2 linked regions of the Homo sapiens genome follow. The protein of the gene in region 1 interacts with the protein of each later gene in a biochemical or structural test. Each region holds a gene or a part of one and is shown in the gene's direction. Other genes may lie near its edges.

Region 1 (3,500 bases):
AAAATGGACGTCCCCATGGGGTGTTGTGGAACCAAAATTGGGACTCACTGATCCTCCCACAGTCTGGGGTGTGAGAATGTTGCTAGTCTTTTTTCCACGGAAGTATTTTATGAGTACCCTCTCATTTTAACAATATCAACAATTAGTGTGTTTCAGGCTAATGCTGAAAGCATCTTTAGGGCCATAGAACATTGTAGTGAGTTGACCTTCTTCCCCTTTTTTGATACCTCTATGAAATGTTTGCCTATTTAGAAAGTTCACCTGTCACCCAGGGGGGAATAGAAAGCTGGGATTTAGGAAGCCAAAAAGTTTCCTTGGGTCACCTTGTCCAAGTTTCTCACTTAACAAGGAGGAAACAGAGGCACATGGAGATGAGATGGCTTGCCCCAAACTACAGCTGATGGAACTGGAAAGTTTAGAAGACATTTGTTGAGGTGCCTAGAATGTAGGGACCTTCATCCTCAAGCCAGAACTGGTCAGGATTTTTCTGCTTTGGGGATTGGATATAAAATTTCTAGAACTGAGTTTAATGGCAGGAAGATCAATTGGACCAATATTTACTGGGTACCCATGCTCAGACGTGCCAGGCACAGGGGGTAGGTCAGTGAGGGCTTAGGCCTTGGGGTTGAGGGGTGGGGGCAGGGAAGGCTGGAGGTGGAACATAAATAAGCAATTGCTGATGCCCGCCTCAGTGATTAAACATTGATGTTGGTGTTGTATTATTTTGCAGGTAAAGATGAGCCCAGCAGCTACACATGTACAACTTGCAAACAGCCATTCACCAGTGCATGGTTTCTCTTGCAACACGCACAGAACACTCATGGATTAAGAATCTACTTAGAAAGCGAACACGGAAGTCCCCTGACCCCGCGGGTTGGTATCCCTTCAGGACTAGGTGCAGAATGTCCTTCCCAGCCACCTCTCCATGGGATTCATATTGCAGACAATAACCCCTTTAACCTGCTAAGAATACCAGGATCAGTATCGAGAGAGGCTTCCGGCCTGGCAGAAGGGCGCTTTCCACCCACTCCCCCCCTGTTTAGTCCACCACCGAGACATCACTTGGACCCCCACCGCATAGAGCGCCTGGGGGCGGAAGAGATGGCCCTGGCCACCCATCACCCGAGTGCCTTTGACAGGGTGCTGCGGTTGAATCCAATGGCTATGGAGCCTCCCGCCATGGATTTCTCTAGGAGACTTAGAGAGCTGGCAGGGAACACGTCTAGCCCACCGCTGTCCCCAGGCCGGCCCAGCCCTATGCAAAGGTTACTGCAACCATTCCAGCCAGGTAGCAAGCCGCCCTTCCTGGCGACGCCCCCCCTCCCTCCTCTGCAATCCGCCCCTCCTCCCTCCCAGCCCCCGGTCAAGTCCAAGTCATGCGAGTTCTGCGGCAAGACGTTCAAATTTCAGAGCAACCTGGTGGTGCACCGGCGCAGCCACACGGGCGAGAAGCCCTACAAGTGCAACCTGTGCGACCACGCGTGCACCCAGGCCAGCAAGCTGAAGCGCCACATGAAGACGCACATGCACAAATCGTCCCCCATGACGGTCAAGTCCGACGACGGTCTCTCCACCGCCAGCTCCCCGGAACCCGGCACCAGCGACTTGGTGGGCAGCGCCAGCAGCGCGCTCAAGTCCGTGGTGGCCAAGTTCAAGAGCGAGAACGACCCCAACCTGATCCCGGAGAACGGGGACGAGGAGGAAGAGGAGGACGACGAGGAAGAGGAAGAAGAGGAGGAAGAGGAGGAGGAGGAGCTGACGGAGAGCGAGAGGGTGGACTACGGCTTCGGGCTGAGCCTGGAGGCGGCGCGCCACCACGAGAACAGCTCGCGGGGCGCGGTCGTGGGCGTGGGCGACGAGAGCCGCGCCCTGCCCGACGTCATGCAGGGCATGGTGCTCAGCTCCATGCAGCACTTCAGCGAGGCCTTCCACCAGGTCCTGGGCGAGAAGCATAAGCGCGGCCACCTGGCCGAGGCCGAGGGCCACAGGGACACTTGCGACGAAGACTCGGTGGCCGGCGAGTCGGACCGCATAGACGATGGCACTGTTAATGGCCGCGGCTGCTCCCCGGGCGAGTCGGCCTCGGGGGGCCTGTCCAAAAAGCTGCTGCTGGGCAGCCCCAGCTCGCTGAGCCCCTTCTCTAAGCGCATCAAGCTCGAGAAGGAGTTCGACCTGCCCCCGGCCGCGATGCCCAACACGGAGAACGTGTACTCGCAGTGGCTCGCCGGCTACGCGGCCTCCAGGCAGCTCAAAGATCCCTTCCTTAGCTTCGGAGACTCCAGACAATCGCCTTTTGCCTCCTCGTCGGAGCACTCCTCGGAGAACGGGAGTTTGCGCTTCTCCACACCGCCCGGGGAGCTGGACGGAGGGATCTCGGGGCGCAGCGGCACGGGAAGTGGAGGGAGCACGCCCCATATTAGTGGTCCGGGCCCGGGCAGGCCCAGCTCAAAAGAGGGCAGACGCAGCGACACTTGTGAGTACTGTGGGAAAGTCTTCAAGAACTGTAGCAATCTCACTGTCCACAGGAGAAGCCACACGGGCGAAAGGCCTTATAAATGCGAGCTGTGCAACTATGCCTGTGCCCAGAGTAGCAAGCTCACCAGGCACATGAAAACGCATGGCCAGGTGGGGAAGGACGTTTACAAATGTGAAATTTGTAAGATGCCTTTTAGCGTGTACAGTACCCTGGAGAAACACATGAAAAAATGGCACAGTGATCGAGTGTTGAATAATGATATAAAAACTGAATAGAGGTATATTAATACCCCTCCCTCACTCCCACCTGACACCCCCTTTTTCACCACTCCCCTTCCCCATCGCCCTCCAGCCCCACTCCCTGTAGGATTTTTTTCTAGTCCCATGTGATTTAAACAAACAAACAAACAAACAGAAGTAACGAAGCTAAGAATATGAGAGTGCTTGTCACCAGCACACCTGTTTTTTTTCTTTTTCTTTTTCTTTTTTCTTTTTCCTTTTTTTTTTTTTTCCTTTATGTTCTCACCGTTTGAATGCATGATCTGTATGGGGCAATACTATTGCATTTTACGCAAACTTTGAGCCTTTCTCTTGTGCAATAATTTACATGTTGTGTATGTTTTTTTTTAAACTTAGACAGCATGTATGGTATGTTATGGCTATTTTAAATTGTCCCTAATTCGTTGCTGAGCAAACATGTTGCTGTTTCCAGTTCCGTTCTGAGAGAAAAAGAGAGAGAGAGAGAAAAAGACCATGCTGCATACATTCTGTAATACATATCATGTACAGTTTTATTTTATAACGTGAGGAGGAAAAACAGTCTTTGGATTAACCCTCTATAGACAGAATAGATAGCACTGAAAAAAAATCTCTATGAGCTAAATGTCTGTCTCTAAAGGGTTAAATGTATCAATTGGAAAGGAAGAAAAAAGGCCTTGAATTGACAAATTAACAGAAAAACAGAACAAGTTTATTCTATCATTTGGTTTTAAAATATGAGTGCCTTGGATCTATTAAAACCACAT
Region 2 (3,500 bases), on another chromosome or scaffold:
TCATGAGTTTTTCATGGCCATGGATAAGATAGTTGAAACCTTTTACTCCCATATTCAGAATTTTGTTTCGTTTTGTTAACTTTTTTTAAGAAATGGAAGGTCCCAGATCTAGAAATGGATTACCTGTAAGATGATTTGCTATGAATAATAAAAATGGCACAATTCTTTCTTCTTGTAATCACTTTTATTCTGAAAGTGTAATTTGGCTTTTTTCCTTTTTCTCAACCTTCTTACGTACACTGCATGAATTATAAATACGAACTTTATATTACTTACTCAATTTTCATAGTCTTATTTCCTGCAATACCCAAACCACGTTGTTTGATGGTTGATCTCTAGTAGTCATTTTCTGGTTGATTTCTATCAATTATATTTTGGCTCTCTAAATTCTGAGTCACTTCAAATCGGAGTTATGGTTAAAGAAGTAACTGATGTAATTAGTTGAAACACTGTTCTCTCAGTAAATCTTGATTTTGTTTTACCATTCCTTTGGGAGCCTCCTCTGCACCTTAAAAGCTCAGCTTTCTATATAACCTGTTATATGCCTGTTTAGATTTTACCAGATTAGCATTGCCTTACTTATTTACCATTTGAAGTTAACTTTTCAAGTTACTGCCTTCCAATAGTTCTAAGTATTAATTTATTGAGTATTGATTAATCAAATATTACTTCTACTGCCCTTCCCTGTCTCTCTGTTCTAAATTGATGGTATGTTGGCCATTATACTTCAGTGACCATGTAGATAGTGGGCAATTTGAAGCTTTTTTTGAACCTTGTTACAACAAATCTTTAGAGCATTTTGACCTGTGATATTATATATGTATTATGTACCATTTTATTTTGGTTTGAGAAACAAATATGTAAGTGACAAAAATGATAGATCAGTATGTACTCTATGAATATGATGGGAAATTTGGGATAAATGACAACAGTGTTCCTGTAGAAAATCTGGAAATCCAGAGAGAAGAAAACAATTCCCAAACCCGGAAATTCCTAATAGTATTTCTGTCACTATCAATTTAAAGAAAACTATTTTGTGTATAGTTATTTTGTTCAGAGAGTAATGTAGTATTTTCCCATGTGTTAGTATTATTTTACCATCAGTTTTTATGGTGTTAAAATACATATAATTTCCATGTTTTAGTTATCTTGTTAAATTTTACCAGGTAAGTCTACTGTTCTTTACCCACCCTCATTATTCAAAATAAAAATGTTAGTTGCTTAGCTGTGTGTGTGTGTGTGTGTGTGTGTGTGTTTGTTTGTGTGTTTGTGTGTGTGTGTGTGTTTGTGTGTTTGTGACTACAGGTGTGCACCACCATGTCTGGCTAATTTTAGATGGGGTTTTGCCTTGTTGCCCAGGCTGGTCTTCAGCTCCTAAGCTCAAGCAGTCTGCCCACTTCGACGTCCCAAAGTGCTGGGATTACAGGCGTGAGCCACAGCCCAGTGCTTTGTTACTTTAAATGTAGCATATGTGAGTCCTTTTTGCACTAGGGTTGTTACCCTTATTGGGAGTTTTAAGTTTTCTGGAAAATCAATGACACCTGAAATGGCAGTATTTGGATCTGCTCTTTGTGAATTAACTATTTTTGAAAGCAAGTGAGGCATTATAAAAAATTTTAAACAGATTTGGGGATTTTTGTAAATCAAGTTTGAGAGTTTAAGAAGGACAGTTAGAGGAGGGATAGTTTGTTGGAAAGGAAGAAACAAGGAACCTAAAAACATAATGTAGAAGTTGAATTGTGAGTCACTAGAATTATGTAAAGCTACACTCTATCTGTAAGCTCTACTATAGTTGGTATTTGATTTTTATTAAAAACAGCATCACAATTTTAATGACCTATGCAGGGCTGTCTCTGAAATTGTTTTAGTTATTTAAAGTAAACACACATGGAAATTGACTTTTTATTTTTAATTTTTTGTATAGAGATGGGGTCTCTCTGTTGGCCAGGCTGGTCTTGAACTCCTGGCCTCAAGCTTTCCTGCCACCTCCACCTCCCAAAGTGCTGGGATTACAGGCATGATCCACTGTGCCAGCCTGCAGTGTTTTTTTGTCTGTTTGTTTTGAGACAGAGTCTTACTCAGTTGCCCAGGCTGGAGTGCAGTGGTGTGATCGCGGCTCACTGCAACCTTTGTCCCCCAGGTTAAAGTGATTTTTTGTGCCTCAGTCTCCTGAGTAGCTGAGATTACAGGTGTGTGCCATCAGCTCTGCTAATTATTTGTATTTTTAGTAGAGATGGGGTTTCACCATCTTGGTCAGGCTGGTCTCGAACTCCTGATCTCAAATGATCCTCCCAGCTCAACCTGAAGTTTAAGCAGGACTTTATTTATTTATTGAGATGGAGCCTCACTCTGTTGTTGCCCAGGCTGCAGTGCAGAGGCATGATCTTGGCCCACTACAAACTCTGCCTCCTGGGATCAAGCGATTCTCCTGCCTCAGCTTCCCAAGTAGCTGGGACTACAGGCGCCAGCCACCACGCCTGGCAAATTTTTGTATTTTACTAGAGAAGGGGTTTTACCATTTTGGCCAGGCTGGTCTCGAACTCCTGACCTCAGGCGATCTGCCCACCTTGGCCTCCTGAAGTGCTGGGATTACAGGCGTCAGCCACCGCACCTGGCTAAGCAGGAATTTCAACTGCATCCTGATTTACCCAGTAGATACATGCTTAGGAATTATGATTTTTTTTTTTTAGTACTTTTAAGTTTAATAGGTCTTTTTAAAATAAAACAGGTGGCTGGGCACGGTGGCTCACGCCTGTAATCCCAGCACTTTGGGAGGCTGAGGCAGGTGGATCACGAGGTCAGGAGTTCAAGACCAGTCTGGCTAACATGGTGAAACCCCGTCTCTACTAATAATACAAAAATTAGCCAGGTGTGGTGACACGTGCCTGTAGTCCCAGCTACTCGGGAGGCTGAGGCAAGAGAATTGCTCTGCCGGGAGGCAGAGGTTGCAGTGAGCCAAGATCGTACCACTGGACTCCAGCCTGGGCAACAGAGCAAGACTCCATCTCAAAAATAAAATAGGTTATATTTCATATTTTTATTTTTTATTTTTTTGAGACGAGTCTCGCTCTGTCGCCCAGGCTGGAGTGCACTGGCGCGATCTTGGTTCACTGCAACCTCCGCCTCCCGGGTTCAAGCAATTCTCTGCCTCAGCCTCCGGAGTGGCTGGGATTACAGGCACCCACCACCACACCTGGCTAATTTTTTTATTTTTAGTAGAGATGGGGTTTCACCATCTTGGCCAGGCTGGTCTTGAACTCCTGCCCTTGTGATCCACCCGCCTTGCCTCCCAAAGTGCTGGGATTACAGGTGTGAGCCACCGTACCTGGCCCTGGGGATTATATTCCTACAGTAAATGATAAGTTTTGTTTGTGGCTCACACCTGAAGTGAGAGGATCACTTGAGGCCAGGAGTTCGAGACCAGTCAGGGCATTGTAGCCAGACCTCGTCTCTGCTAAAAATAAAAATTAAAAAATTTAAAAAAATTAGCCAGGTGCATG

What was found.
Region 2: the proteins of BCL11A (region 1) and G3BP2 interact in a biophysical measurement, tested with the Homo sapiens proteins (one large-scale study listed by IntAct).

What each region holds. Positions count from the first base shown.
Region 1 is NC_000002.12:60,459,655-60,463,154, reverse strand, and holds part of BCL11A (BCL11 transcription factor A), read left to right. Parts: intron 1-730; coding exon 731-2,751; 3' UTR 2,752-3,500. UniProt on the Homo sapiens protein: Transcription factor. Associated with the BAF SWI/SNF chromatin remodeling complex. Binds to the 5'-TGACCA-3' sequence motif in regulatory regions of target genes, including a distal promoter of the HBG1 hemoglobin subunit gamma-1 gene.
Region 2 is NC_000004.12:75,663,412-75,666,911, reverse strand, and holds part of G3BP2 (ras GTPase-activating protein-binding protein 2), read left to right. Parts: intron 1-3,500.